3 separate regions of the Homo sapiens genome follow, and regions 1 and 2 are each linked to region 3. Evidence: fine-mapped expression QTL. A gene starts in region 3. Each other region holds a variant in brackets. All regions are shown on one strand. Distances are from middle to middle.

Evidence for each region. PIP is the estimated chance that this variant, and not a neighbour inherited with it, causes the effect. A credible set is the group of variants that fine-mapping cannot tell apart.
Region 1: its variant is the best candidate, but not a certain one, in a credible set for the expression of TRIM35 in putamen (GTEx, PIP 0.89).
Region 2: its variant is the best candidate, but not a certain one, in a credible set for the expression of TRIM35 in substantia nigra (GTEx, PIP 0.82).

Annotation. Positions count from the first base shown.
Region 1 is chr8:27,256,052-27,266,203 of GRCh38, reverse strand. STMN4 (stathmin 4) reads left to right here and starts at 7,800. Exons shown (of 7, transcript NM_030795.4): 1 at 7,800-7,853. The variant C/T (reference allele first, on the strand shown) is at 4,183.
Region 2 is chr8:27,242,414-27,252,565 of GRCh38, reverse strand. It overlaps STMN4 (stathmin 4), which reads left to right. Exons shown (of 7, transcript NM_030795.4): 2 at 8,765-8,855; 3 at 10,074-10,152. The coding sequence starts at 8,843. Among named protein-coding and RNA genes, the nearest start is that of STMN4, 11 kb to the left of the region's middle. RefSeq lists an enhancer at 9,459-10,152. The variant C/T (reference allele first, on the strand shown) is at 5,356.
Region 3 is chr8:27,307,381-27,317,532 of GRCh38, reverse strand. It overlaps TRIM35 (tripartite motif containing 35), which reads left to right and starts at 6,261. Exons shown (of 6, transcript NM_171982.5): 1 at 6,261-6,732. The coding sequence starts at 6,298. It also overlaps a transcript of PTK2B not described here. RefSeq lists a silencer at 6,043-6,252 and enhancers at 6,403-6,552, 6,563-6,782, 7,183-7,292.

The DNA of each region.
Region 1 (10,152 bases), 51 kb after region 3:
CAGCACAGAAGGTGGTCTGCAAAGATGAATGACGCAGCTTTGCAGAGAGAGGAGAGAGACACAGAGAAATAAAGAGGGAGAGAGAGAGAAGGAGAAAGAGAAAGAAATGGAGAGAGAGAGAAAGAGGGAGAGAGAGAAAGAGGGAGAGAGAGAAAGAGGGAGAGAGAGAGAGGGAAAGAGAGAAAGAGGGAGAGAGAAAGAGGGAGAGAGAGAAACGGAGAGAGAGAAAGAAAGAGGGAGAGAGAGAAAGAGAGGGAGAGAGAAAGAGGGAGAGAGAGAAAGAGGGAGAGAGAGAAAGGGAGAGAGAAAGAGGGAGAGAGAGAAAGAGGGGAGAGATAGGCAGAGAGAGAAAGAGAGGGAGAGAGAAAGAGGGAGAGAGAAAGAGAGGAAGAGAGAAAGAGGGAGAGAGAGAAAGAGAGGGAGAGAGAAAAAGGGAGAGAGAAAGGGAGAGAGAAAGAGAGAGAGAGAAAGGGAGAGAGAAAGAGGGAGAGAGAGAAAGAGGGAGAGAAAGAGAAAGAGGGAGAGAGAGAAAGAGAAAGAGGGAGAGAGAAAGAGGGAGAGAGAGAGAGGGAGAGAAAGAGAAAGAGGGAGAGAGAGAAAGAAAGAAAGAGGGAGAGAGAAAGAGGGAGAGAAAGAGAAAGAGCAAGAGAGAAAGAGGGAGAGAGAGAAAGAAAGAGGGAAAGAGAAAGGGAGAGGGAGAAAGAGGGTGAGAAAGAAGGAAAGGGAGGGAGAGAGAAAGAGGGAGAGAGAACAAAAGAGGGAGAGAGAAAGAACTGACTTGTGATTGCTTTCCTGACTCTTCTTTTTTGGGAGGAATCCTCCGTTTTGGGTTAAATAAAGAATTCCCAACTCCTCTTTTCTCCCCTTTTCTAGTAACTGTTTATTTTGAAATAATTACAGATTTGGAAGTTGCAAAGATAGTATAATAGAGAGGTCCCACCTACCCTCTACTCAGTTCCTCCCGTGGTTACACTTTACATAACTGTGGTACTATATCAAACCAGGAAATGGGTGCAATGTGTGTCTATAGTTCTATGTCATTTTATCCCATGTGTAGACTGGTGTAACTACCACCACAATCAAGACACACAACTGTTCCATCCCACAAAGGTTTTCTTCTTGCCACCCCTTTTAGAGTGATCCTTCCTTCTTTCCACCACTCCTAGCTCCTGGCAACTACCAGTCTGTTCTCCATCTCTATAGTCTTGTCCTTTTGTGAATATTCTATCAATGGAATCATACACTTTGTGACCTTTTGAGACTGGCTTTTTTTTTCTCAGCGTGATTCCCTTGAGATCCACTCAAGTTGCTGTGTGTATCAGCAGTTCATCCTTTTTTATTACCAAATAGCATTCCATGGTACGGATGAACCACAGTTTGTTTATCCATTCGCCTATTGAGGGACATGTTGGTTGTTTCCAGTTTGGGGTTATTATGAATAAAACTGTGATGAATATTTGTGTACAAGATTTTTGTGTGAATACATTTTCATTTCTCTTGGAATCACGCCCAGGAATGCAATTGCTTGGTGATCTGGCAAGTATATGTTTAGTTAAGAAACCCCCAAATGACTTTCCAGAATGGTTGTACCATTTTCCATTGCCACCAGCAATGCAGGAGCTATCTAGTTTCTGTGCATTCTCACCAGCATTCGGTATTGTCATTATTGTTTTTTCTTTTAATGAATAGAGACAGGGGTCTCACTATGTTGCCCAGGCTGGTCTTGAACTCCTGAGATCAAATGATCCGCCTGCCTAGGCCTCCCAAAGTGCTGGGATGACAGGATGACAGGTGTGAACCACCACACTTGGCCTACTGTTTTTTTGTTTGTTTGTTTGTTTTTTGTTTTTTGTTTTCTTTGAGACTGAGTCTTGTCTGTCTCTCAGGCTGGAGTGCAGTGGCATAATGTTGGCTCACTGCAACCTCTGACTCCTAGTTTCAAGCGATTCTCCTGCCTCAGCCTCCCAATTAGCTGAGGTTATAGGCACGTGCCACCACACCTGGTTACTTTTTTATTTTTAGTAGAGATGGGGTTTTGCCATGTTGGCCAGGCTGGTCTCATACTCCTGACCTCAAGTGATCCAGCCCACCTTGACCTCCCAAAGTGCTGGGATTACAGGTGTGAGTTCACTGCGCCTGGCCTACTGTTTTTTAGTTTAGCTTTTTTCACAGGTGTGTACTAAGGCCTCATCATGGTCTTAAATTGCACTTGCCTTATCATACTAATGTTGAATATTTTGTCATGCATATGTTTGCTATCTGTATATCCTCATTGGTGAAACATCTCTTCATATCTTTTGTCCCTTTTCTAATTGGATTGAATGGGTTTTGTTTGTTTGTTTGTTTTTGTGAACCAAATTTTTTTAAATTTTTTTTTTGTTAAATATTTTTGTTGTTGTTGAGATGGGGTCCTTGCTATGTTGCCCAGGCTGGTCTTGAACTCCTGGGCTCAGCAGTCCTCCCCCTTTGGCCTCCCAAAGTGCTTGGATTATAGGTGAGAGCCTAGTGAGTATTTAAAATTTGTTTTACTCTTAGATTTTAATATAAATTGTCTTTTTTTTTTTTAAATAAACAATCTTGGAATGTGCTTCTGTTACTTGCAAACCTAAGACTCATTCACAGTCTGCTCTTGTATTTAATGACATCATAATAATAGCTAACATTTACTGAGCCCATACTTTGTGCCAGGCAATGTTCTAAGTGATTTACAGGTTTTAGCTCACTTGATAAATATTGCTTTTATAAACATCATATGTTGTGGTTATAAATATTAACCACCATTACAATTTAGTTAACAAATCTAATCAGGGACATAAACAAACAGCTCTAGCAATCCAGCTTTGCTTGGATTCAAATCGATTGAATTGATTTGTGTTTTAATTTGTTGAAGGAAAATCTAAGCCACTAGTGACTCCAGAGCATGTGAGTCAGGACAGCCACTCTTCAGGTGAAATAAGAGTTCACATTTTTAAAATGACATAGTGCAAACATGTTTTTACTTGTTTCAAGTCAATAACTGATAATGTTCAATTCAACAAATTCTACAGAAGAAAATCCCACAAACTGCAATTTCCCATTGATAAATTCCCATTGATGTTCTATAGTTTTTACAAACCACATTGGTGTGAGTGGAAGAGACATGCATGTATGGATTAGATATTCTGAATTCCCATGTGAGACTAGGTCCACTTTTTCTGAGGGTTGGGAAGAGATCCCAGGCTCCATGAGGGTCCCCAGGGTGACTTCCCAGCTGGTCCTATGATAGAACTACCTCTGAGAAGGGCAGGGGCCCCTTCCTTTGTGCCTGAGAGGCTGTGAGTGTGAGTTATTATATGGTGAGTCAAGTCACCAAGCAGTGGCTGCCCTGGGATTCCTGGGCAGAGATATAGGAATCGGGTCCGCATGGTGCAGCCAGGCAATGCGTGGGGATTCAGGGAATGGCCACACACACTCCATCCTAGTATTGTTGCTGTAGTGCAACTTGGGCTGTGAGAGGTGGTGTCTGCAGAGGGGCGTTGTGGGCCCCATGCCCCTTTGGCTAAAGTCCAGCATTTGGGTAGATTGATCACAAGCAACAGGTCTAACCCAAAGTTGACTTGGCAGGTCCAGGGCCAGCCCACATTTCTCAACAAGGCTCACAGGGGCTTTCCATATTGCGGTGTGAGGAACAGAGCGCCCACCTCGCCTTCCCCTCCACCTGCTCCCTGATCGCCATCCTGTCCTTCTGAGCCTCCTAGTTTTGACCTTGCTGATTTCTTTTCTGATTTTGGTCTCTCCTCGCCCTTTGTTCTATGGACTTGGTGTTTGGTACATTTTCTTACCATTTCTGTGTTTCTTGTTTTATCAACATATTGCTTTATGCCATCTCAGGGAAGTCCCAGGGACTCTCCCACCCAGTAGGTCTTTGGGGCCGTGGCTCTACCCTGCTTACCTTACTCACTCTCTCGCCAGTGTCTCCCGCATCCCGTTCCCCAGAGTTCAAATCCAGGCCTCGCTGCATAACAGGTAGGCTGTTTGAGGTTACCTTTCCTATTGGAGTCTGTTTCTTTTATAAATGGGGTGGGTAATCCCTTTCTCACAGGGCAGTTGTGAGATGTACTGAGTGTGTGTGTGTGTGTGTGTGTGTAACCATCACAACCTAGTACCAAATGGAAACTAGGTAATCCTAGAAATAGAGCCACC[C/T]TCCCCATGACCCTTCTCCCCGACCTTGGTCTCTGCTGTCAGGCAGTGATGTCCTGTCTCTTTCTCCCCCTGTTCCAGCTCCACCCTCCTTCACAGTCAGTGAGGGGGACTCAGACCGAACTTGCTCCTCCCCTAGCAGCAGAGGATCTCTGATTGGCTGCCATCACCATGGCAACCTACTGCCTTCTCTCCCCATCCCTCACTTTCCAGAGCCAGCAGATTTGTGGAGTTCCAGACTTCTCAGGGCTGGGAGGGAAGATACTAGGGGAGGACAGAGAGGCCCCCTTCACAGCTAGGATAGCCATGCATTTGGGGTTTGCTTGGACTCCAAATTCCAGCCTGGTATGCAGTGTGGCCTCTCCTGTCTCCACATGTTGAGGGAATGACTTTCTGATATCCTTAGTTGTCCTGATTCCCACTGAAAAGGCTCAGCTTGATGGCTGAGGGTCCTGGGTTGGTGGCATGTGGCATGAATGATAAGTGTGTTGTTCAGTGATACTCACTGAATGTCAAACAGCACAGTGTTCGTCCTGCCGTCCTTGCAGCCCTGCTGAAAGGATTACACCATAGATTCAGCTCTGGTGTGCTTTGAAAACCCCAAAGGCTGTCAGGGCTCATTCCTCATCCTGGCCACCGCTTGGCCAGGGGCTGGCAGCCTAACTGGAGCCCTCCCCTCTGGATGTGAAGTGGGGGCTTGGAGATGTGTGTCTACATGGGGCCTCCTGGAGAACCACACGGGGTGCTGTGGTGAGATGCCAGCTTGCAGGTCCTGGCAGTGGGGTGCAGGTCAGGGGTTCATGCCAGGGCTTGAGAATCTACTTAATCCCCAGCACAGTCTGCAGGGTGAACATGTGACATCCATGCATTAACTATGATTTTCAAATGCTCATTGATGCTACTGTAGTTTAAAAATAATAACTTCAAAGCATGGGCTGAATTCAAGGCAACTTTTGTCATTATTCGTGTTCTCAGTCAATAGGGGTTTGGTGGTAGAGGGTGAACAAACCCTCCTAAAATAGGGTGAGGTGCCAGGCGTGGTGGTTCATGCCTATAATCCCAGCACTTTGGGAGGCCAAGGCAGGTGGGAGCCCAGGAGTTTGAGACCAGCCTGGGCAACATGGTGAAAACCTGATTCTATAAAAAATTAGCTGGGTGTGGTGGCACATGCCTGTAGTCCCAGCTACTGGGGAGGCTGAGGTGGGAGTATCACTTGAGTCTGGGAGGCAGAGGTTGCAGTAAGCCATGATCACATCACTGCACTCCAGCCTCAATGACAAAGCAAGACTTTGTAAAAAAAAAAAAAAAAAAAAAAGGAGGGAGGAGCAAGGTGATGGAATTATCACACATGCTACAACATGGATGCTCCTTGAAGACATGCCAAGAGAATGAAGCCAGATACAAAAGGACAATACTATTTGATTTCACTGATACGAGGTGCCTAGAATAGGCAAATTCATAGAGACAGAAAGTAGTTTGGGGTTAGCTGGAAAGGAGTGTTATTGCTTACTGGTTACATATGAATATTGGGGAACATGCCAAAGTTCTGGAGATGGAAAGCTGTGATGGCTACACAGCAATGCGTGTGCACTTGAGGCCAGTGAGCTATACACTTCAAAATAGTGAAAATGGTGAGCGTTATGTTGGACATGTTCAGCCTCAATAAAATTACCCCTCCCCGGCTGGGCGTGGTGGCTCATGCCTATAATCCCAGCACTTTGGGAGGCTGAGGCAGGCAGATCACGAGGTCAGGAGTTCAAGTCCAGACTGACCAATATGGTGAAACCCCATCTCTACTAAAAATACAAAAATTAGCCAGGTGTGGTGGTGCGTGCCTGTAGTTCCAGTGACTCAGGAGGCTGAGGCGGGAGAATCTCTTGAATTCGGGAGGTGGAGGTTGCAGTGAGCCGAGATCACGCCATTGCACTCCACCCTGGGTGACAGAGCGAGACTCTGTCTCAAAAAAAAAAGAAAAAAAATTACCCCTCCCCACCAAGAAGAACACATGAGGCAAGGCTGGACGGTGGAATGTGGGGATGATGGACACATCTTGGGGGGATTTAATCTGGAGAGGTGTTCTGGAGGAGGGGGTCTCGCTCCACAGCTGCCTGGCTCCTCTCCTGCCTCACCCTGCCCTCTCCAGCTCACTGGCTGAGGGCAGCAGCCTGTGAAGGTTATGTTAGTGGCTCCCTCATTCCCTGAGGGAACTACAGAAGCCACCATCGCTGACCCGTCACCCCCCCTCAAGATTCCACCATATGGAAATGTAAACTAGTACAGTCACTATGGAAAACAGTGTGAAAAATTTTTAAAGAACTAAAAGTAAATCTACCATTTGATCCACCAATCCTACTCCTGGGTATCTACCCAGAGAAAAAGAAGTTATTGTACAAAAAAGATACTTGCACATGCATGCTTATAGCAGCATGATTCGCAATTGCAAAAATATAGAACCAGCCCAAATGCCCACCAATTAACAAGTGGATAAAGAAAATGTAATACACACACACACACACACACACACACACACACACACACACACCGTGGAATACTACTCAGCCATAAAAAGCAATGAAATAATGGCATTTGCAGCAACCTGGGTGGAATTGGAGACCATTATTCTAAGTGAAGTAACTCAGGAATGGAAAACCAAACATCATATGTTCTCACTCATAAGTGGGAGCTAAGCTAGGAGGGCGCGAAGGCATAAGAATGATACAAGGGACTTAGGAGACTTGGGGGAAAGAGTGGGAGGAGAGTGAGGGATAAAAGACTACTCACTGGGGACAGCGTACACTGCTCGGGTGATGGTGCACCAAAATCTCAGAAATCACCACTAAAGAACTTATTCATGTAACCAAACACCACCTGTTTCCCAAAAACTTACTGAAAATTTTAAAAAATCCACCATATTTGGGAATCACCAGTGTAATGACCAGTCCATCTTCCTACCTGTGGCTCCCTCTGGAAGGCCCAGGAGGGCTGGATGGGAGGGGCAGTGAGGACCCACTAGTGTCAGCAGAGATGTGGCTGATACCTTTGCAAAGGTGGCCAGAGGGAAGCCTTATTCTCCAGAGACTCCAGTGCAGGGCCCTCATCAGCTCCCAATCCTGGGGTTTTTGCAGTCCCCGCAACCCCCCGCCTTCTGAGTCATCGTTCAAACCCACCAGCCCTTCTGACAGAGCTGGAAACAGGCACCAAGCCCTCCAGGAAGCTATTTTTAGGGTTCATCTGTTCTTTTTTATTTCTTCTCTGGATTCCATATTCTCTCACCCCCAAATTTAAAGGACCTAAAGATCCTGGAAATCATTCATTATACCCCCAGCTCGCAAGCTGTGGCTTCTCCCCAACCTTCTCTGTACCACTCCCTCTTTCTTTCTTCCTCTCCGCCCTCACCCCTCTGGTTCTCCAGCTCCACAGGCAGCAGAGAAAGCAGGCTCTTTGTCTGACATCATCTTTCACTCCCTGGCCTGCTAAGAGTTACTCACTCAGGCAATCCCTGCTCCACCAGAGGAGACTGTCCAATTGCCAAGCAACCCACTGCTGGCCAATCACAGAGCTTGGAGGTGATGTCATGGCAAGAGCGAGCAGTGGTGCTGATGTTGAGAGAAGCCCAGGGTACCACTAATTGAGGGAGTGAGGAAGAGAGCAGCTCGCTTCTAACTGGACTGCACGTAAGTAGAAATAAAATGCAACTAATTTGAGGCTTTTCAGGCAAAAGAAAAAACAAGACAGCAGCTACAGTGGGGAGAAGCGAGGGGCCTAGCACCTATTGTGTCACCTTTGGTTCTACTCAATCATTTAAACTTTGTCAGATCTTGGGGGAAAGGGGGTGAGGCAGAAAGAATGGCGCTCGGCCAAGGGGTGAGGGTGGGCTCCGGGTGCCACTTTTATTCCAGAGCTCAGGAGAGGCAGGATGGGTGGGAATTGTCAGATGCTATGGTGAGCTATTTCTGCATAAAAATGTTTTGTTGCTTAAGGAGAAAGGTTTTGTGCTGAGTCTGGCTGCCCCTGCAGCTGGCTGTGACCTGAAGATCCCTTTCAAGTGGGAAGCTCTCCTGTGTTTTTACCTTTTCTTCCTCAGACACAGCTTTTCTTGTCTCCCATTCCCATTTTGATCACACATCTTTTCCTTCGGCTCTATGCACGGGTTACTTTTTTCTCTTGGTTCTAAGGATGCAATGAGATCATCACCTCCTCTTGGCCCCGCCCCACCCTGAGGTCAGCCTAATCCTACCTGGCCAGAGGTGGCTGGCTCCAAAGCTGAAAACTGCAGACACCCAGAACTGCCACGCCCTGGTCCTTGACTGGGGCCCTGGCCAGTCCCCCTCCTTATTCAGCCCACCACACTTGCCAGGAGTTTAGGCATCATTCATTTCTCATCCTGGGACCCAGGGTTTTGATGTCCAGCAGTCAGCTGTCCCCACGTGGCGGTGCTGTCTTTGTTTTATTTCTCCCAGGAAGACACAATCAGGTGTGGTGGAGTCTTGTTGTCCTGAACATGAGCAGGTCTCCAGAATGCTGTGTGTGTGTGTGTGTGTGTGTGTGTGTGTGTGTGTGTGTGTTTGTATGGGGGTCGGAGGGAGAGGTCAGGAATGTTCAGGCACCCTTATCTGAATGCCCTGGGAAGGGATACCCCCTGTCTTAAGACCAAGAGAATACAAGGTGGGATGGCCAGAGGTGGCCTGCTGAGGCTCGAGGGATGGGTGGGAGGTTGAGAGGGAATATGAGGGAATCTGTCTCCACCTGAGGCTGAGCCCCCGCCTCCCAGGGGGAGGAAACCTCTCCCACAGGCGGGTGCTAGGGGAATGAGATCATCCTTCAGATGAGGAAATAATCATAGTGCTGGAGCAGTGAGAAGGCAGAGGGGAAAAGGTCTGATCTGCAGCTCCACAGAAGGAAGCCAGAGTCTCCCAGCAATGCTGCCCTAGTCTCTGGCTCACCCCAACCCTCCGCTTTGCTGCTAGGAGCTGTACTTTCACCCCTCTTGGAAACCACTGAGCACCTGTCAGCTGGTCCCAGCCCTCCTGGCATTCTCAGCTCCACCCAGGCCACTCCTGGAACAGCTCTGGAGTGAGCAGGATCTGCAAGTGCTAGATGGGACTACCATAGAGCATGCTGCCCTGTAGGGAGTGAGTTCCCTGTCACTGAAGGCATTCAAGCAGAAGTTGGATGGCCACCCAGCAGGGAGGCTTTAGAGGAGATTTTTGCATTATGTTAGGGATTGGTCTAGGTTAGTGTTTTAACTGAAGGCTGAGACCCATTAGTACATTGTGAAATCAACTTATGGATTGTAAATGGTATTTTGTTTTAATAAAATGGAATAAGAGTAGAAAATAATTAGAGCACATCTCATGTAATGGGATAATTAATGCTTCCTATGCTGTCTTTAGTTACATATCAGTTATGTGTATATTTGTGTGTACAAATGTACATATATGTCTGTATCTGTAATCATATATGTGTGTATATGTCCATATCATGACAAATACATACTGGATCATAATATAAAATGTAGCACCTTTTGTGAGCTTCAGTCAAAAAAGTTTGAGAAACATTAGGCTAAGTGACTTCTAATTACCTCTCCTAACCCTAAGACTACAAGCCTATGAAAAACTCCCAATAGATAGTCAACCTTTTTTTTTTAATTTTTAACTGCGGTAAATACACATAACATAAAATTTGCCATTCTATTTTTAAGTGTACAAATCAGTAGTATTAAGATTTACATTGCTGTGCATGCAATCTTCAGAACTCTTTTCATTTGGCAAAACTGAAACTCCATACCCATTAGACACTAACTTCCCATTCTCCTGTGCCCCAGCCCCTGGAAAATCCCATCCTACATTCTTTCTCTATAAATTTAACTCCTCTAGGTACCTCAGATAAGTGGAATCATACAGTACTTGTCTTTTTATGATTGGCTTATTTCGCTGAGTGTAATGTCCTCAAGGCTCATCCATGTTGTACACT
Region 2 (10,152 bases), 65 kb after region 3:
TCATTCTAGCACTTTGGGAGACTGAGGCCAAAGGATCACTTAAGCACAGGAGCTTGAGGCTAACCTGGGCAACACAGTGAGACCCCATCTCTACCTTAAAAAATTTTTTTTGATGGGGTTGTTTGTTTTTTTCTTGTAAATTTGTTTGAGTTCATTGTAGATTCTGGATATTAGCCCTTTGTGGCGATTCCTCAGGGATCTATAACTGGAAATACCATTTGACCCAGCCATCCCATTACTGGGTATATACCCAAAGGACTATAAATCATGCTGCTATAAAGACACATGGACACGTATGTTTATTGCGGCATTATTCACGATAGCAAAGACTTGGAACCAACCCAAATGTCCAACAATGATAGACTGGATTAAGAAAATGTGGCACATATACACCATGGAATACTATGCAGCCATAAAAAATGATGAGTTCGTGTCCTTTGTAGGGACATGGATGAAATTGGAAATCATCATTCTCAGTAAACTATCACAAGGACAAAAAACCAAACACTGCATATTCTCACTCATAGGTGGGAATTGAACAACGAGATCACATGGACACAGGAAGGGGAATATCACACTCTGGGGACTGTTGTGGAATGGGGGAAGGGGGGAGGGATAGCATTGGGAGATATACCTAATGCTAGATGACGAGTTAGTGGGTGCAGCACACCAGCATGGCACATGTATACATATGTAACTAACCTGCACAATGTGCACACGTACCCTAAAACTTAAAGTATAATAATAAAAAAAAAAAGAAAAAAAAAGATGGCAAAAAAGAAATTTTTTTTAAATGTAGATTCCCTTGCTTTTGTAAAAGCCCTGGTTTCTGGCTTATGTAAAAATAGTAGACAGAGGGGAAAAAACCTAGAAGAAAATGCCAATAGCATAAAGTAGCAAGACTACAAGGATTTATTTTCTTTTTTTCTGTTACATAGAATTTCCAAAATATAATGTGAATATGTTTGTAATTAAAGCATTATTTATAAGATGCACATATGCCTATAGATGTAATCATAAAGCAATATTCAATCACATTGTTGTTATTGGGAGTAAGATTAAAAGGGCTTGCCCTGTATATTGATGGCTTCATGTGCTTTTAACCCAGGACCTCACAGAACTCCTGGGTCACATGCCTTGCACACTCTCCAGCAGCCCAGAATGGAAGTCCATGCCCCTGAACTTGACTTCTGTGATGCTGATTCTTCTGCATATGTATATATATAATATATATACACGTATATACGTATATATATAATATTATATGTATATATATATACGTATATACGTGTATATATATATATTTATTTTTTGAGATGAAGTCTCACTCTTTCACCCAGGCTGAAGTGCAGTGGCATGATCTCAGCTCACTGCAACCTCCACTTCCTGTGTTCAAGTGATTCTCCTGCCACAGCCTCCCGAGTAGCTGGGACTGAGACTACAGGCATGCACCACCACGCTGGGCTAATTTTTGTATTTTTAGTAGAGATGGGGTTTCACCATGTTGGCCAGGCTGGTCTCGAACTCCTGACCTCATGATTTGCCTGCCTCAGCCTCCCAAAGTGTTGGGATTACAGGCATGAGCCATCGCACTCAGCCGCTTCTGCATATATTAAATTGGAAATAAAAATTGCCCAGAAAATCCCATCATTGTGGATTATTTGGGGCTGTCACTTTTCCAGTTTAATTTTCCTTCTCTGACTTGCCTCTTAACATAGCTGTTAGTGCTAAGAAGGACTCCTCAGATTCAGGCCTTCAGAGTTCTGCTTTTGTCATAGGTGCTTATTTCCTAGAAGCCTAAGCCTGTTGGGTACCCTCTGGGAGTTGCCCTTGTCCAGGTCCCCATCATCTCTTCCTCTAGATGCTGTTGGAAGCAAGAGCCTAAGAGGTGATTAAACAATGCCAGTTTCCCCAGACCCAGTGAATCACACACTGTTCTGTTTTGCCCAGTTTCCCTCTGTAGGTCTCGCTGGTTCCTTCTTGGTCTGCACTCTAATTCCCACTCCTTCTCCCTTTATGGCATGGTCCACATTATCGCGGAAGACCATGCTGAGGCCCGCAGAGCATCTGCAGAGCCTCCAAAGGCTCCAATGGCTCTAGATACCCATCCAGGGACCTGTTTTACTTTTCCACCAACAAAAACTCCTGTGGTTATTTTAGGATCTAGCAGAGGGCTTGGCACATAATTAAATACTCAGTAAATATTGTAGAAAGAATGAAAACCACATTTATGAAAAAATAATTTATCTCCTTTTGATTTTAAACCCAAAGAAGACACATGGCTGCCAATCAGAGCCTTTTGATCAGCATGAAATAACCAGGGCCACTGTTCTGAGCTGACATGATTCATCCCAAAGCAAATAAATGTGGCATTTAGATAGCTTATGCAGCTAATTTTGGGTAAATATATGACCTCAACTGGATTTTGAAGAAGATTGGCAATAGGGCACAGACTTAAAGAACCACCTTCCTGTACTGCTTGTGGTTAGAGGACCTCAGGCAGAATTCATTGCCCCCACAACCATGAGGTATTCATCCTGATTCTTGGCCAGAGTTTCTAGATTTGTCTTCCGAAACCCTTGCCAGGTACAACTCTGTTCAAGCCACTGGGACATGCATTATCTGCTCATCCCTCAAAAATAGTCCAGATGGAATTTGACACATCCTGCAAGCATTCTTGGGGCATTTCTTACAGTGACCAATAAAATGCTTGTTCATTCTGTCGTATGGGCAGTCAGAGGCACTAAGAGGTCAGGCATACACCCAGTAGGTGGCCACGTGTCATCTGAGAACTTGGTGCTTTTCTGTTTGCCCCCTGGACATCAGCTGAATTACGGAAAGCCTGGAAGTGTGGGTTGCATGAAAGTGCCCTGCTGGGGTCTCCCTTCTGTGTATCCATCTTCTCATTCAGAGCTGCTCTGGTGACCATGTGGGCTGTCCCCTCTCATCCAGGATGGTGTTTGGGGACAGAGAAGGAGCAAGTATAAAGGAGAAGGGCATTGACACTGGAATCCATCCAATCTCTGCCAGGAGTTCTCTGCGTGACCTCAGAATCTTTGGTCCCCAAGTAGGAGGCTATTGGCATTTTGGAAGGGACAGTTGTTTATCGTGTGGGACTGATGTATACAATGCAAGACATTTAGACTCGCCAGCCTCTGCCCACTAAATGCCTGTAGCATCCTCAGTTTCATGACCATTGAAAAGTCCCATGTAGTTCCCGGGAGTGAGACTGCACTGAGTCGAGAACCATGGGCTTGTGATTGCCTGTTCTCTCCATCTCTGACATTCAAATGTTCTGGGTGAAATCGAGGGCTCTGATCTCTTCACTTTAACCACCTTTTTCTCCCCACTGTCCCACCGTGAGATCCCTCCTCAGTCAACAGCCTACAACTTCACTCTCAGCCACGTCTGCCTCCAATCAAAACTTACTCATTCTGTGTTTCCTTACGGCTGGCTCTGTGCTTGGGGGGGGTTATCACCCACTAATTTATTTCTTAACAATTATGCTAATGGTTCAAGCCATCAACAAAAAGCTCTGGTTCCTTGCTTTTCTGTACAGACTCTTAGATGCTGGTGCTGGGGGAAATGTATGGATCAGTTTGTAAATGGAAAAATAGTGCTGGGTGAGATGTGAAAACTTCAGAGTGGAACTCAATCCAGCAGGTCCAACCCACACTTTGTACCCAGACTGCTATTTGGCTTCCAGCCTATCCCTCCTAATTTTTCCCCAAACGAATGTTGCCAGATGAATCTTTTTACACTCGCAGCAGAACCTAAAGACAGAGAGGCTTTCCAATGAAACACATGAGGACTCAAATCCCAGCTCTGCCCCTACCTACCTGTGTGACGACGGTATAACTTACTTAACTGCTGAGATTCAATGTCCTCATTCTCAAAGAACCTAATAGAAAAATGAGATAACAGCCGTGCTTTTCCTGCCCAAGAATGGTAGTTGTTATTATTGCTATTATTATCAGCATCACTGTTCTCTTCTCCCCTCATTCAAAAGATGTCAGTGGCTTCCTACTGGGTGGGAGATAAAGCACAAAGTCCTTCACTGGTCCAGAGGTCTCTGCAATTTTCCAGTTCCTATTCTAGCATTCTGTCCCACTGCACCCTGCATGCAGCCCAGTGGGCCTCCTGTGTTCCTGAGTAAACCCAGTCCACATCCCTGGCACACAGTCAGGTTCACAGTCATTGCAAGGTGATAGGCACTGCAGAACCTCAATTGCATAGTAACCTCATCACAGTCTGGGATGAGGCCACACTCGAATCTTTGCCATCTGAAGATCTAGCAGAGGGCTTGGCACAGAATTATATACTAAATAAATAAATAAATAAATAAATAGAGTCCTCTCTCTACCTGCTCCACTGGATCAATCCCTGCCAGCACAGGGGCTCAGCTGCCCAGGGAGGCCTTGGCTCTTGACCAACCAGTTTGTGTCCATCAGAAGTGCTTGACAGTGACCACCAGGCAGGAGCTGGAGGGCCTGCCATCCTGAGCTCTAGCTCTGGTTCTGGATATTGGCTGAATGACTGCCACATTGACCTTCTGTCTGGGGCTCCTTTGATCTTTGTTGCTGCTGGATGCAATGAATTTCCTGGTCTTCCTTAGGGGCAATAGAAGGGCTAGGATTGGCTCTCACCTAACAGAAAACACATAAGGAACCTCTGAGGGATGGGGATGGAGGTTTGCTTCTGCACTGGGTTTTGCCTTCCATTGCTCTGCTGGCTGACGTCTTGGATAGAATCTCCCATTGAGGATTTGCACTCCTTGCCTCATGCTTCCTATGGCCTCTATTGTCTCTTCATCTTCATCATGCCACCTGAATCCCTGGCACTCTGTGTGCTCTGACCTTGGGCATAACACCTTTACTGTCCTTCTTTGACAGTTCCAGGAGAGGTTTGGTGGCCCTCGCTCCCTTGCAGGCTGTATATTGCTGTGGCATGATAACATGACCATGGCCATTTAACAAACCCCACAAGACAACCTAGCATCACACAACCAGGCCAGGTGCTGGGGAGGGACATGTGACTGGCCCCACTGGGCGCAGATGCCACAGGTTATTAGGGATAAAGTTGGGTTTCCTGCCATGGCTGGCGCCACCCAGTGGCAAAGACTCCTTTCATCTCTGTGCCCTCTGCTTCCCACCTTTTTATCTTCTGTGTCCTTTCTCAGAATGTCCCCTGGGCATATCTTTTGGGTCTTGAGTGCAAAAGAAATGATGTGACTGTTGGCATGAGGATTTATAAGGGCCCTATGGACCCACAGGCACAAGTAAATAGATCATCTTTTTTTTTTTTTTTTTTTGAGACAAAGTCTCACTCTCTCACCCAGGCTGGAGTTCAGTGGCG[C/T]GATCTCGGCTCACTGCAACCTTCGCCTGCCAGGCTCAAGTGATTCTCCTACCTCAGCTTCCCTAGTAGCTGAGATTACAGGCATGCGCCACCATGCCGGGCTAATTTTTGTATTTTTAGTAGAGATGGGGTTTCACCATGTTGGCCAGGCTGGTCTCAAACTCCTGACCTCAAAGTGATCTGCCCACCTCAGCCTCCCAAAGTGCTGGGATTACAGCATGAGGCACCACGCCTGGCCACATAGATCATTTTGAGGAATAAATCAGCCCATGTATGAATGCTGGTACCTGAGGTGAAAAAAACCATGGGTTTGAGCCCTGGCTTTGTCACTTCCTGAGGACATTAGTTTCCCCGGGGCTACTGCATCACTTTACCACTAACCGGGAGGCTGGAAGTTCAAAGCTGAGATGTCAGTGGACTGAACTCTGCTGAAGACTCCAGGGGAGGATCTGTCCTTGTCTCTTGCAGGTTCTGGCGGCCCCAAAGGTTCCTTGGCTTGTGGCTGCCTTACTCCCATCTCTGCCTCCGTCTGCACATGGCCTTTTCTCTCAGTCTCTCTTATAAGGACACTTGCCATTGGGTTTAAGGCTTTCTCAGGCAAGCAGGAATGTCTCTTCTTGAGATCCTTCATTAAGCCCTTCTTTCCAAATAAGCTCATATTCACAGGTTGTAGGAGTTAGGATGAGCATGTATGCATGTAGGGGACATTATTTAACCTACTGTACTGAATGGCCTTGAAAAGGCACTTAGCTTCCCTGAGCCTCGATTTCATTCTCTATAAAATGGGGATAGTAATTCCTGCCTTACGAGGCTATTACGAAAATTAAAGTGAGTTTGTCACATAGCAGCTGCTCAGTAAGCACACATTTTTAACACTGAGAGGTCTCCATTGCAAATCCCTTGATCATGACCATGCATACCTCTGCCCACCTCTACAACATCTCGTTTCTTGCCCTGGTTTTCCTTTTCTGGCTTTCTGACCTTCTCTGTGTTCCTAAAACTCCTAGCCCATTTCCTTCCATGTAGAAAGCACTTACCACATATTTTAAAGTTAACTCATATCCCCAGGCCAGGCTGGCTTTCTGTGAGTCCTCAGGACCATAGAGAAAGCATTAGTGAGTATCTAGTTCTTCCACTGGTTACAATGGAAGAGCTTACAAGTCGAGAGACCTGGAGACTAGACCCAGCTCTGCACCCTTAGAGCTGTGTGACCTTAAGCAAGCGTCTGAACTTCTCCAAACCCCAGGTTCTTCATCTGAAAGCAAAGCTGATGATGCCTGTCTTGTCAGCCTAAGCCAGCTTCATGCAAAGTTAGACTAGGATAATGTGGTGGGTGTCGAGTGCCCCCTGAGCACAGGGTCCTATCATCATTTCTAGCTCGGGCTGGAGGCACATTCCATAACTCCAACTGCCTGCTCCTACTCCATCTGCCTTCTTTCTCAGGCATCCCTCTCTGCCTCCCCTCCACCTATTCAGGCTTCCACTTCTGATCCTTTCCCCAGGTAGAAGTCCAAGGCCACTGCCACTCTGGCAAGGGCTTACTAACTCTGCCAGTGACTTGTCAGTCAGCCTGGCCATGAGCAGAGACTGCGGGATGGGGTGTCATGACCAGGGAAGTCGCATGCAGGCACCAGGCCTGCCTCTCTGTTCAGGGACTCACTGGTGCCGTCAGGACCAGCTTAGTTCTGCAGAGAGAAGACCCATTGTGCTGCAATGACAGGGGCCTCTGGCTCCAAAGCACAACAACAAGAACAAGGAGAACAAAGCAGTTTAAGTCCAGCTGGACCTCGGTTCAAATGGGCACTCTAACTTGCTAGCTGCATTGCCCTGAGCAGGCACATAAACCCTCTGAGCCTCAGTTTCCCCATCCGCACATGGCAACAACAGTCCTTACTTGTGGGTCCAGAGGTAATGGCTCTGAAGCAGGCATGTGGCACCTGATAGCTGTCCTGATGCAAAAGACAGGGCAAAGAGACTAACATTTATTCAGTGCTTCCTGTCTGCTGGATGCTATGCATGGGTTTTTCTCATTTAATTTGTACAGCTCTGTGCAGGATTAAGATGGAGAAAGAGACTAGCGAGAGCTGGTAAGAGAGGTGATACTTGTATTTGACCCCACACTGGTCTAGCCCTAAAGCCAGAGCTGAGTTCACTGCCCCATTACCTCCTCCTGCCAGTCTCCAGCCAGCACAGAAAGGCAAGGGGTTTGAAGTGGGTCTCAGAGTCTCTTTGGCTGGCAAGGATGTAGGCAGTGAGCCTGCTGGCTCTCGCCACCCTCCCCTGGCACAGTGACCACAGAGGGTGACCGAGGATCAAATGGTCCTGAGGATGGCCACTCACTGCTGGCTGCTCCTCACTCTCTTTGTAGTAGCCTTCATGGGCTCCCATCACCTCCACCCCTCTGATCCTCCCAGATCTGCTCCTTCCCTGACTCTCCTGTTTTGTCTCCTGCCCCGCCCCCTCCTCTTTCCACTTTCTGATCTAGCGTCAACTAGCTTGACCTGATCCCACGGACACTGAGTGGCGTTCTCACCCCGACCCTTGGCCGTGATGTTCCCTTGCACAATGCCCTCCTGCCAGCTCCTGTCTGATTCTAACTCATCCTTCAAGGCACTGCTCAGGTGCTACCGACACCAGGGACACCTCCCAGGCTCCCTGGCAAATGCTGGGGGTGTGGAGCCCTATTTCTGTGTCCCACAGCAATTCCTCATGCTGATTTCTGGTGGTGTGGAGCCCTATCTCTGTGTCCCACAGCAATTCCTCACGCTGATTTCTGGTGGTGTGCTGGCTGGCCCTGTGATGACGACATGATTCCTTAATGTTTTTCTTTCCTGTGTCCCGGATTGTCTTAAATAGGGTCAAACACAGCTTAGGTCAGTCGTCTTGGGAAAGGGAAGGTGAGAGGCATCTGAAGAGGCCTGTTAACATCCTATGTCCAATTCCCTCTCTTCCCATATCAGAATTGGCCCAAAGACTTCTGGGGCATGTGCGGGGAGAAGTCCAGGACACACAGTTATTTTATGAATGCCTCCCAGCTGATTCTGCAGGAGGATTTGCTTCTCACCCTAACCCTTGAATTGGGCCAGGTTCTTGAGCTATGGAGGGAGACAGATGAGCACCCCTTGATCCATACGTTTTTGGGAAACCCACGCTTGCATGTGCTAGGGGGCTTGAGACTGGAAAGCCAATTATGAAGTATCATTAGTTCATGGAATCTGAGCTTGTTTAGCATCATTGTGGGAGGGAGGTCGGGGTAGGGGACCCCCAGGGAGAGTTGGTGGGGAGAGGGCCTGGAGGAAGAGCAAATGAGGTACCCCTGAGATTCCCTCCCCAGTGTATAAAGACCTTTCTTATGAGAATAACCTGTCTAATCCATCGATGGTAAAATCCTGTCCTCCCCTTTTCTCAGGTTGGTGACAGCGTCCCAAGCTGGTGACAGACCCACTCTGTAACTTTCAGCTAGATTCAGCCACCAGATCCCAGAAACATGACCCTTGCTGGTAGGTACAAAAACCATGTGTTAAGGGGCGTAGGCTATTCCCCCTGCCCTCACCCAACATGGACTCACAGAAGCAGGGAAGAACACAGCTGGCAGGAAGCACACGGGGTGTGTGGGGGGGTGCAGGTAGTGATGGGAGGCTTGGGGGCATGCAGGCAGTGGCGGGAGGCACACCACTGCCTGTCACCACAGGCGACAAGTTGAACAAGTGGTGGGGGGTGTGTCACAGCTGAGATTTTCTTCCTTTTGCTCATCTGTATATGTGTGTTTTTTTTTAAGTTTTTATGATGCCTATATATTATTTTTGCAGTTACACGTATTTTCAAATCTGTAAAAGGAAGCCAGGTATAGTGGCATATGCCTATAGTCCCCAGTATCAGGAGTCTGAGGCACAAGGATCGCTTGAGCCCAGGAGTTTGAGTCCAGCCTGGGCAACATATTGAGACCCTCATCTCAACAAAAAATTGTACAAGCAAATGAGGATGGGGGCAACACCTGCGCTGTGCTAGGGGTCAGCTAAGGGCTGCAACCTGAGCAGCCAGACACACGGGCCCCAAGGCGGTGAGGAGAGGGACTTTCAGGAGCCAGGACAGCTCTGGCCCCTGACATCCCAAACACAGATAGACTAGAGGGTGGCGGGGATATGCTCCAGCTTTTGGGGACACCAGCGACCCCCAGGCTCTGTGCACTGTGTTGGAAAGGTCAGAGAAGGCTTATAGCCTGACCTTGTGAGGGGCAGACCAGAGGGATGGTGGTGAGGACGGTCCCCTCCTATCCAGCTCCTTAACCCTGCAGGCCAGCGCTGCCAGGTATTTGGAGTAGAATGGAGTGTGGGTCTCCTGTGTCCTGGAGAAAAAGAATCGGAATGTCCTGGGGCAGATGTTGGGGGATGGAGAGCTGAGGCACTGGTGCTTGGGACCTTTCCATGAGGGCATTTTGCTTTCTGGTCTGGAAGGGGAGGAGACATACTGTGGAGAAGGATCTGATGCTCTGGAAGGCTTAGGTTTCCACAGGAGACAGGAGTGGGTTCGAATCCCACACAGGGATCCTGAACAGCACGGCTCAGGGCGAAAGGCCTGGATCCCCAGGCTTGGCGTGTGCCTGCGTGGTTTGAGTGCCTTTATGGAACCCTGGGCTGCTCAGAGCCCCAGACCCGTGAGGACGCTGACTTCTGAGGCTAGGAGAGGCGCCATCCTCACCTGACTGGGTGTTTCCGCAGCCTACAAAGAGAAGATGAAGGAGCTCCCGCTGGTGTCCTTGTTCTGCTCCTGCTTCCTGGCCGATCCCCTGAATAAGTC
Region 3 (10,152 bases):
CTTGGAAATACGCTTAACCAAGGAGGCAAAAGTCCTGCATGATGAGAACTACAAAACATTGGTGAAATAATAGAAGGCATAAGGAAATGGAAAAGACATCCTGTGTTCATGGATTGGAAGACATAATATTGCCTAGGTCACTGCCTATCAAATGGAAAATTTTCTCCCTTTTATAATAAATAGCAGAGCCCCTAATGTATCTCAGGTAATCACCTTCATCACATGATTCAGGTAAATTCTGATTAGCTCAAATCAATCATGATGGTCTTATTCCCCTTGCCAGTGATGAATTTAGAAGTGAACATGTGACCCAGTTCTGGCCAATAAGATGCAAGGGAGTATTCTGGAAGGTTTTAAGAAAGGTTTCTTAGCTCTGAAAATGAGACATACAGGGAGAAATGGCCTTATTTCATTTCTGGACATTGGTTCATATCAGGATAAGATGCTGGAGTTGCTGCAGTCATTTTCCAACCAAAAGGAAGCCATAGGCTGACCAGAGAGAGGATGAATCTAAAGTCACTGACATAACCAACAGTGGATGCCTTTTGCCTCCAGATTTCCTGGTATGTGAGATAATACACCCCCTTATGGCTTAAATCATTTTATGTTGCATTTTATCTATATGTAGCTTAAAAGATCATAAATGATACAGACAGAAAAAAGTATAGGTCAAATAAAAGATGTTTGCAGTCAAATATGACCCAGAGGCAGGCAGTTTACCACCCTCAGTGTTTCCCTAGTTACTTGGATTAAACACTATTTCTCACAGAAGTTCTCCCTGCATTATTCAGATCAACTGAGAGCTCCCACCCTCCTTGTTTCTGTAGTTTAGGCCTCAGTAAAGGTACATCGGACTACAGTGATTTCCTCAAAGATTTACTTGGTAACTCTGATGAACAAGGTCGATTATGTCTGCAGTGCCAGGATGCCTGTTTCCGAAGATGCTGCTGCCAGCCCTGTGGCTGACTTTATTTAGCAACTGTTGTCCTTATCCCAATATTTTGTTATCTGAAATCTGCTTTGTCTGATATTAACATAGTCAAACCAGCTTTGTTTTTATTAGCATTAGTGTGGTATATCTTCTTCCATCCTGTTAGTTCAATCTGTATGCTTACATTTAAAGTTAAGTTCCTTATAGCCAGCATATAGTTGAGTCTTGCCTTTTTATATAATCTAACAATCTCTGCCTTTATTTGCAGTAGCCACTTTCTAGTTCACTGTTTCAGAAAAAAAAAAAAACAAGGCAATTTCCTCCTTTACTCTCTGCACCTGGGAATTTATTTTCTTAACAATTTAAAAAGTTATTCCTTACACAAATTTACATGGTGATGGCAAGGGGTTTGGAAATCTGGCAGTGCTTGGCAGGGCATTTGGGAGGTGGGATGCAGGAAATTAGAGATTATGAGAACTTTTGAGTAAGCTCTTGCAGAAGATTAGCTAGTATACATAGGACTTGAACATCAATAAGGACCTCTGAATAAGGTCCTTTGTATTGAAAGGAGAAATATAAATTGGTGACAGATTGGTTCTAGTCACCAAGATTTCTCTTTCCTGGTCTCTGGCTAAGTCTTAGTCACCCTTACCCACCCCCCCACCATATGCAAAGAATAAAACAATTTCAGAGCATCTAAGTTGGTCAGAACTTGGAGCAATTAGTTCCATCTTTTCTTTTATAGTGGAGGAAAAGCAAGTTAGAAAAGTGAAATAATATGCCCCAGGTCCTGCCCCTGGGTAGTGGTAGAGCTTGGACTAGAACTAAGTCCTTTCTGGATTTCCAGAATGATTGAAGAGCCTTATTGGTTTAATGTTAACCTTTGTATTGTAGTTTAAAAGATACAATTTCTACTCTTCCTTCTTGTTTTTGATTTGTGGCCCCATTCAGAATATGAGAAAAAAAAAAGACCCAACAAAATAAGGAAGATCAGGTAAGAACAGAATGAAACACATAGACAGCAACACATATCGATTCACAACACAACTGGGACACAGAGATAAGAGAACACAGTGAAAGAGAATGAGACGACGTAAGAGTCTCTGCGTTGGGGGGAGGGGAGAGGGCTATCTGGAGTGTAGCGTTGTTAGCCCCATCTTGTGGCTTTTTTGGATATTGCCTCTAAGGTTAATTTTTGAACCACTAACCAACCATAGCTGGAGACCCAACAACTTGTTGGGTGAATAGATCTAGGATAATTGCTTTCAAACTTTCTTGCACCTCAGAATCACCTAGCATGCAAGTGAAAATGAAGATTCCTGGGCCTCACTTTCCACAAGAGAGATGAGTAGATTAAAGTGGGCCCAGGAAACTGCTTTTAGAAAACTCCCCAGGTAATTGCAGGAGAACCATGAACCACATTTAAGAAACACTGAAGGCAATTAGAGTTAGTGGTATTCATCCCTTGTCATTGTGAGGAAAGGACTATGCTGAGGAAAAGTGTGGAAAGAAATTATTAAGAACTTTAAAGGTCTGAGATTTTACCCTACTTGCAAGCTAATGTGTGGGCCAAGGGAAAACGTCTCCTTTGCCCCTTGAAGTTTCACTGCAAATCACTGACAAAAAGGTTAAGAAGAGGAAAGGGATAGAAGTTTATTTATTTTTTTGAGACAGGGTCTGGCTCTGTCACCTGGGCTGGAGTGCACTGGCACAATCTCGACTCACTGCCACCTCCCGGATTCAAGCGATTCTCCCACCTCAGCCTCCAGAGTAGCTGGGACTGTTAATGGTGGAGGGTGTCCAGGTTATTGGCATCTTGAACAAAGAATTGGAAAAAACGCACAAACTAAGCAGGGAAGGCATGAAGGGTTTTATGGAAAATGAAAGTAAACTCCACAGTGTGGGAACCGGCCTGAGATAGGGGCTCAAAGGCCCCATTACAGAACTTTTGGGGGTTTAAATACCCTCTGGAGGACTCCATTGGTTACCTGGGGTACGCCCTATGTAAATGGAGAGGATGAAGTAAAGTTACAAAGTTATTTACTTGGCCTACGCCCTATGGGGAGGATATTTGCTGTCGCAGCTGAAGTGTGAATTGGCCTTATGTTCCCTGCCTCCAGACCCTATTTTCCTGCCTCAGGCTATAGGCGCACACCACCACACGCGCCCGTTGTATTTTTTGTAGAGACGGGGTTTTGCTATGTTGCCCAGGCTGGTTTTGAACTTGTGAGCTCAAGGCCTTCTTCGACCTCCCAAAGTGCTGGGGTTACAGGTGTGAGCCACCACTGGCACCTGGCCCGATCCGCCATGCCTGGCCTGATCATAGTTTTATGTGACATGGGAGCCTTCAGAATGAAGACCTAAAGATAGACTGGAAATGGCTCATTTTCATGCTTAGGTTCAGCAAAGTATGAGTAGCTGTGTAGAAATATGATTGAACAAAAGGGTATGAGCTAATGTTAATAAACTGAGTGGGGAACCTAGGCCTGTCTGTCTAGATTTTTCTTGGCCTCTACGAACATGCATTTCTTCCTTCCAGGTATGTTACAGGTAGTTAGACAGGCATGAGCAGGGCAGGAGAGGACTCTACCCTCCCCAATCCCCTCAAGCAAGAATGCCAGGTGATGGTTTCACAGTTATCACACTGCCTTTCTAAAATGGATAATTTGGCAGATGGGCCAGAGAGAGGGAGAGAGACAATTCCCTGATGGTCCACAGCTGTCACTAAAGTGTTACTTGATGTTAATTGATATTAAAGCAGGTGCCAGGCATAGGCAATTTCCCAAACAGATAAAAACACTTGAGATTGGTAATCAGCTTCCAATAAAATTTCAGAAATTGGGTGAGTGAGCTTGGGCATGCACATTAAGAGACAAAATAGTGGAGTATGACCTTCCGGGGGCATTCCACTGGAAAAGGGAAGAAAGCCTCAGATGGGCATGTGTACAAATTCCTAAGCACATGGTGCATGCTCACCTCCCAAGCATAGGGAGGGCACTGTGCATTCGGGCAGCTCACACTGAGGGAAGAATGAAGGGAGAGGGCAGCAAGACTCCAGAAGTGGGCCAGCATATGAAGTCCCAGGATCAGGGTTAAATGCCACACTTGTCCCTCAAGTTGCCCGCTTGGGTCTCTTCCAAGTGTACTTTCTTTTCTGTCCCAAACTTTTTAATAAACTTCCACTCTTGCTCTGAAACTTGCCTCAGTTGCTTTTTCTGCCTTATGCCCTGTATTAGTCCATTTTCACATTGCTATAAAGAACTGCCTTAGACTGACTGGGTAATTTATAAAGGAAAGAGGTTTAATTGACTCACAGTTCCGCATGGCTGGCGAGGCCTCAGAAAACTTACAATCACAGTGGAAGGTGAAGGTGAAGCAAGACACCTCCTTTGCAAGGCTGCAGGAAGGAGAATGAACACAGGAGGAATTACCAAACACTTATAAAACCATCAGATCTCGTGAGAACTCACTCACTATCAGGAGAACAGCATGGGGGGAAAACCACCCCTGTGATTCAATTACCTCCACCTGGTCTCTCCCTTGACACGTGGGAATTATGGGGATTACAATTCAAGATGAGATTTGGGGTGGGGACACAGCCAAACCATATCATGCCCCTCAGTCTAATTCTTTCTTCCAAGGAGGCAAGAATTGAGGTTGCTGCAGACCCATACAGATTCACTGCTGTTAACTCAGACACCTTCTACCCCTAACAGGTATGGGGTAGGACCCTCTCTGGAATCGGGCTCTTATGGCCTACAGTCAAACAAGGTAGGTCAGATAATTTCTTTATGGCCAGTTATTCCACAGAAAGGCAGAGAGAAAGAGTAATATTTTAAGGTTTCAAGACTGGCTTTAGGAAAAAGGGGTTCTGGTTTCTATGACCTGCCTTGGGGAAAAGGAATTCTAATTTCTATGGCTATCCTTGGGGGACTGAGAGATAGGAGGGCAGAGAAAAATTTCTGCTTTTGAGGCCATTTTGGGGTATTGTTTTCTGAGTTTCAACACTAACAAGTTTGCATGCCAAAATTTCATGAATACTGCTAAAAGATGAAACTCCTGGGTCAGAGACAAAGGATAATACTAACAGCAATAATAGTAGTCACAGTATTGTCATTGGGCCAGTTTCTGAGCCCTAATTCTTGCAAGACTATGTGATGAAGGCTACAGTAGGTTGCATTACAGGAGAGGGGCCCCAAGTTTAGGAAACTCACATCTCTTATAATTGGGAATAAGTCTGCCAGATCTTTGGAGAGACAAGAATTCTGTCTTCCAGGGCTATTCAATGCAGAAACATCCTTGAAAAGATAGTTGGAAAAAGGCAGTCAGTGCCTCTGCTCTCTCAAGACATGCAGGAACATGACACATGTGAATTGTCTCCCAATAGAAAAGGAATGAAAGTGCATCGTGTGAAAAGTATTCTGCATCTGGAGGCTGTAAAGTGATCAAACTGAAGCAGGAATGAAGATCTGAAGGAACCATCCAGGCCTACTGTACCTGGCAAGAATTGAGCATGAACTCTAGTTATCTCAGCTAAACTTTGCAGAAGTCCTCAATTTCACTGTTTTAATGGGCACTTGCCCATTAAAACAGTGGTTGTCATGAGCACTTTCCACATTTATTTCACTTTATCCTCACACTTCATGGAAACAGAGCTATTACAGCCATTGTACTCATGAGTAAATGGACTTTGAAACATGATGACCTGTTCACTTTTTCAACCACAGGACAAGAATCAGGTTTTCTCGGAGCTCTTCTGCCGCCACCCCTCTCTTGTTTCTCCTTACCGCGGCGGGCCAGAAGAAGACTGGCCAAAATAAGTAAACGACTAATGCAAGAGTGGCATAGGTCCTCAAAAAGGCGCTGCAAACTTAAGTGGTGATTGCACTCACGGTGCTTTAAGACCCAGCCACTACTTCGGAAGCAGGAAGTTGGCATCTCTGGTTTCTCCCATCCGCGGGCCTGAGGTTCCCGGGGATTGGTTAAGGTAGAGGCTCCTTTTCCCATTTGCAGCCGGAAGTAGGTTTCCAGTAACACGGAAGCCCTACTACGCCGCCTGGGAGACCCTTCCGTGCTACCCCGGCCAGGGACCCGCCCGGACCTGAGGAGGCGGGAACTGCGGGCAGAAGGCCCACCCCGCTCTCCCAAGATTTCCCGCGCACACCGGAAGTGGGTGGGGCTCCTCCGAGCGCCCCCTCCCTCCCCCTCGCCATCCCCCCCGCACGATTGGCCAGCGCCGCTGTCTCTCAGCGTTCCAGGGGAAGGGACTGGGCGATTCCCAGCACTCGGGTCGCGGGCGTTGGCAGCCGGGCGGGTGGGAGGGGCCGGAGCAAAAGTTCCGGGCGCCCGAGCCGGCTGCTCGTGCCATGGAGCGGAGTCCCGACGTGTCCCCCGGGCCTTCCCGCTCCTTCAAGGAGGAGTTGCTCTGCGCCGTCTGCTACGACCCCTTCCGCGACGCAGTCACTCTGCGCTGCGGCCACAACTTCTGCCGCGGGTGCGTGAGCCGCTGCTGGGAGGTGCAGGTGTCGCCCACCTGCCCAGTGTGCAAAGACCGCGCGTCACCCGCCGACCTGCGCACCAACCACACCCTCAACAACCTGGTGGAGAAGCTGCTGCGCGAGGAGGCCGAGGGCGCGCGCTGGACCAGCTACCGCTTCTCGCGTGTCTGCCGCCTGCACCGCGGACAGCTCAGCCTCTTCTGCCTCGAGGACAAGGAGCTGCTGTGCTGCTCCTGCCAGGCCGACCCCCGACACCAGGGGCACCGCGTGCAGCCGGTGAAGGACACTGCCCACGACTTTCGGGTAAGAGCAGCGATTTGCACGAGGCGGCCGAGCCGGGTCTGGAACCCGGAATCCCTTGGCTCTGCGGCTCCCGCCCCTCCTGCCTGCCAGAGCCCAGTGTGCCCGCGTCTCGCTCCCAGCATGCAGGACCCCACCTCTCCGACCCAGGTTCTCAGGGCTGGCTGCTTCTTCAAGGTCGGCCCAGGGGCCCGTGCTGGGAGAAGAGAATGCGAACGGAAAGTGACAGATGAGGTTACATGATGTTCCCAAGACAGCGACACTTGCTTCTGAAGGGCCCAGGCCATGCACCCCTTGTGCCAGCCGGGTGTGGCCCAGGTCCCTTTAAGCGGCACGGATGTGGGTGCAGCCCACGAGCCCTGTAGCTTGGCACACTCAATTTAGAAGTGGAGGAGGAGCCACAGACCTGGCCAGGGGTGTGGAGTCTTAAGATTTCCCCCAAACCAGTCACCTACTTGCCAAGCTGATCCCGCGGTTTGTATTATCTGAGTGAGAGGTCTCTGACCCTGGCTGGCTGGCCTATTCTGGTTTATAAAGCAGCATCTCCATATCTAGAGTTCTAGTGACTATACATAAACCCAGGAGCAACTTACAGGGCAAAACTAACATGGAGAATTCTTTGATATAGGAAGGAAAAATGAATAGAAGATAAGGGTTAGCCTAACTCAGCATTTTCCAAAACGTTTAATCTTAGCCCATAGGAAGCAATGCATTTTCCCTTGTGACCCAGAACATATGTATCAGTTGAAACAAAAGTTTTCTGAACATGTCCATGGCACTCTGATATTTTCTGTTACTTCCCTTTGTTTTTTTTTTTTTTTGAGACCTCTATCGCCCAGGTTAGAGTGCAGTGGCGTGCTCTTAGCTCACTGCAACCTCCGCCTCCTGGGTTCAAGCGATTCTGGTGCCTCAGCCTCCCGAGTAGCTGAGATTACAGGCATGTACCAACACGCCTGGCTAATTTTTTTTTTTTTTTAATTTCTAGTAGAGGCAGGGTTTCACCATGTTGGCCAGGCTGGTCTGGAACTCCTGGCCTCAAGTGATCTGCCCTCCTCTGCCTCCCAAACTACTGGGATTACAGGCGTGAGCCACTCCGCCTGGCCTCTGTTACTTTTAAAAATTACCCAGAATGTGAAACATTGAATTTATTTCATCACCTGCTAATGCATGAGTCAGAGCCCCAATTGGGAGAACACTGGGTAGCTGGCCCGAAGCTGCATGGACTGGAGAGGAGGAGCTGCCCGAGTCCCCTGTGCCTGGTTTCTGGCCCCCTCTGTGGCCCTGCCTTCTTTTTTTGCAATACCTTTTTAAATACGGAAGTCTGTTCCGCTCCAAATGCATTTGACAAAGTTTAATTGAAGGGGAATGTAAGGATGCTGTCAGTACGCATGTCTCAATGAGTAACCCTGTTACTCCTGTCATCTTTTTTGTTTAACATGGGTCCATGTCAATGCTTTTCCTGTTTCCACTGGCAGAAGTGACAGATCCTGATTTGGGACAGCTGGAATAAGTGCTGGCCAGCCAGGGGTCTGGGGCCCAGGTAAAGGAGGGATCATGGTTCAGGTCATGACTGATGCCTATTTGGCTGGCCGAGGTGCTGATCAGGAGATGCTGGGGTCAGGGCTGAGAACACCCAGGCAGAGCCCCCAGGCTGGGGCCAAGCCAGGATTCAAGAGCAGAGAGCCATGCACCAGCAGATGCCTGGTACTGCAAGGTCCCAGGGATACTGCAGGAGACAAGATAGACCATTTCCAGCCTCAAGGAGCTTCCAGCAGAGACCCGAGGGAAGAGGAGGTGTTAGCCAGGTGAAAGAGGGTATTTCAGATAGAGGCAGCAGCATTTGGAAGGGTCCAGAAGTGGGAAAGCCTGACTTTCTAGGCACTGAGGGAATTTAAGGGTAGTTAGAATGAGGAGGGACGTGCAGGAGGATCCAGGAGGCCGGTGGCTCACCCTTGCTGTGAACAGCAGCTGGGGGTTTTAGCAGAAGAATGATGGTGTCAAGTCAGTGGACACTCAGGATGATGTCAGGGGCTGAGTAGTCTAGTCCCAAATGGATCTGAGAAGAATGAGAGCCAGGTGTGGTCAGCCTGATGCAGGGTGCAAATCACTCATTTACTAGACAAATGGGTACTGATGGCTGTTGTGTGCTGTGGCCTCTTCTTAGCTTCATGGAATTCTCATTTGAGCAGGGGGCATAGACAGTCAATAGACAAGATGTAGTTCTGTGTGATTCAAGGTAGGTGGTTGTGGGGGAGCGGTATGGGAAGATTCCCTCCACCACTTGGTAAGAAGGGACTGGGTAAGAAGCTGTGTGCCTCACTGAGGGGGTTTTCCGTTTTGTGCTGTGGGGAGCTCTGAAAGATTCTAAACAGGGGAGTTTGTGATGGGATGTGTGTTTTAGAGAAAGATTACTTTGCCAACTATCTATGTGAGGAACAGCAAAGTCAAAATCATCCCAGCTAACACATTTCAGTGCTCACTGTGTGCTAGATGCTTTTCAGTGTTCACACGTCAACAAATTTAATGCTCACAAAAACGTATTTTCAGGTCCTGTGTTTCCTGTTACTGCGTAATAAATGTGGTGGTTTAAAATAGCACAAGTTTGTTCTCTTATGGTTCTGGAGGTTGGAAGTCCTAAAATCGAGGTGTCTGCAGGGCTACATTCCTTTTGGAGGCTCCAGGGAGAATTTATTTCCTTGCCTTCTCCAGCTTGCAGAGGCCCCTTCTTCCAGCTCTGAAGTGTGTCATTCCGTTCTGCATCTGTTGTCACTTTGACTTCTTTGACCAGTTCTACTACCTCCCTCTCATAAGGACCCTGTGATGACATTGGGCCCACCCAGGTAATCCAGGATAACCTCCCCACAGCAAGATCCTTAATTTAATCATCTGCACAGTCCCTTTTGCCATACAAGATTCTGGGGATTAGAATGGGGACATCTTTTCGGGGAAATAATTATTCAGCTTGCTACAGTTAGGTGCTATTATCCCCATTTTATAGACAATTATAGAATCATAGAGAGGGTAAGAAACTTGTCCAAAGTCACAGAGCAAGTAGCTCTAAAGATCACCTGGAGCCTTGTTCAGTTCACACACTGGTCCTGGACTTTGAGAGAGGTTTCTCTCATCTCAGACTTCAGCGGGCAGCTGACTGTGTGTTAGGGGTTGGAGTGGCTGTTGACCATTGTCAGGGCTGGCAGAAGGTACTGGTTGTGTGCCAGTACTGTGTCCAGGACAGGACCGGACAGTCCTAGACCTTGCCTTTGTGGGCATGGTTGTATCATCTCACTAATAATTACATAGTTTCAGCTCAACATTCCTGTGAAGGACAGTACAGGATGTGGTGGGAGATTGTAAGGGGGAGGCTGCTCTTGTTTGGTGGGGTGTGGGAAGGAGTCTCCAAGGAAGTGATTTCGCTGAGAGGAG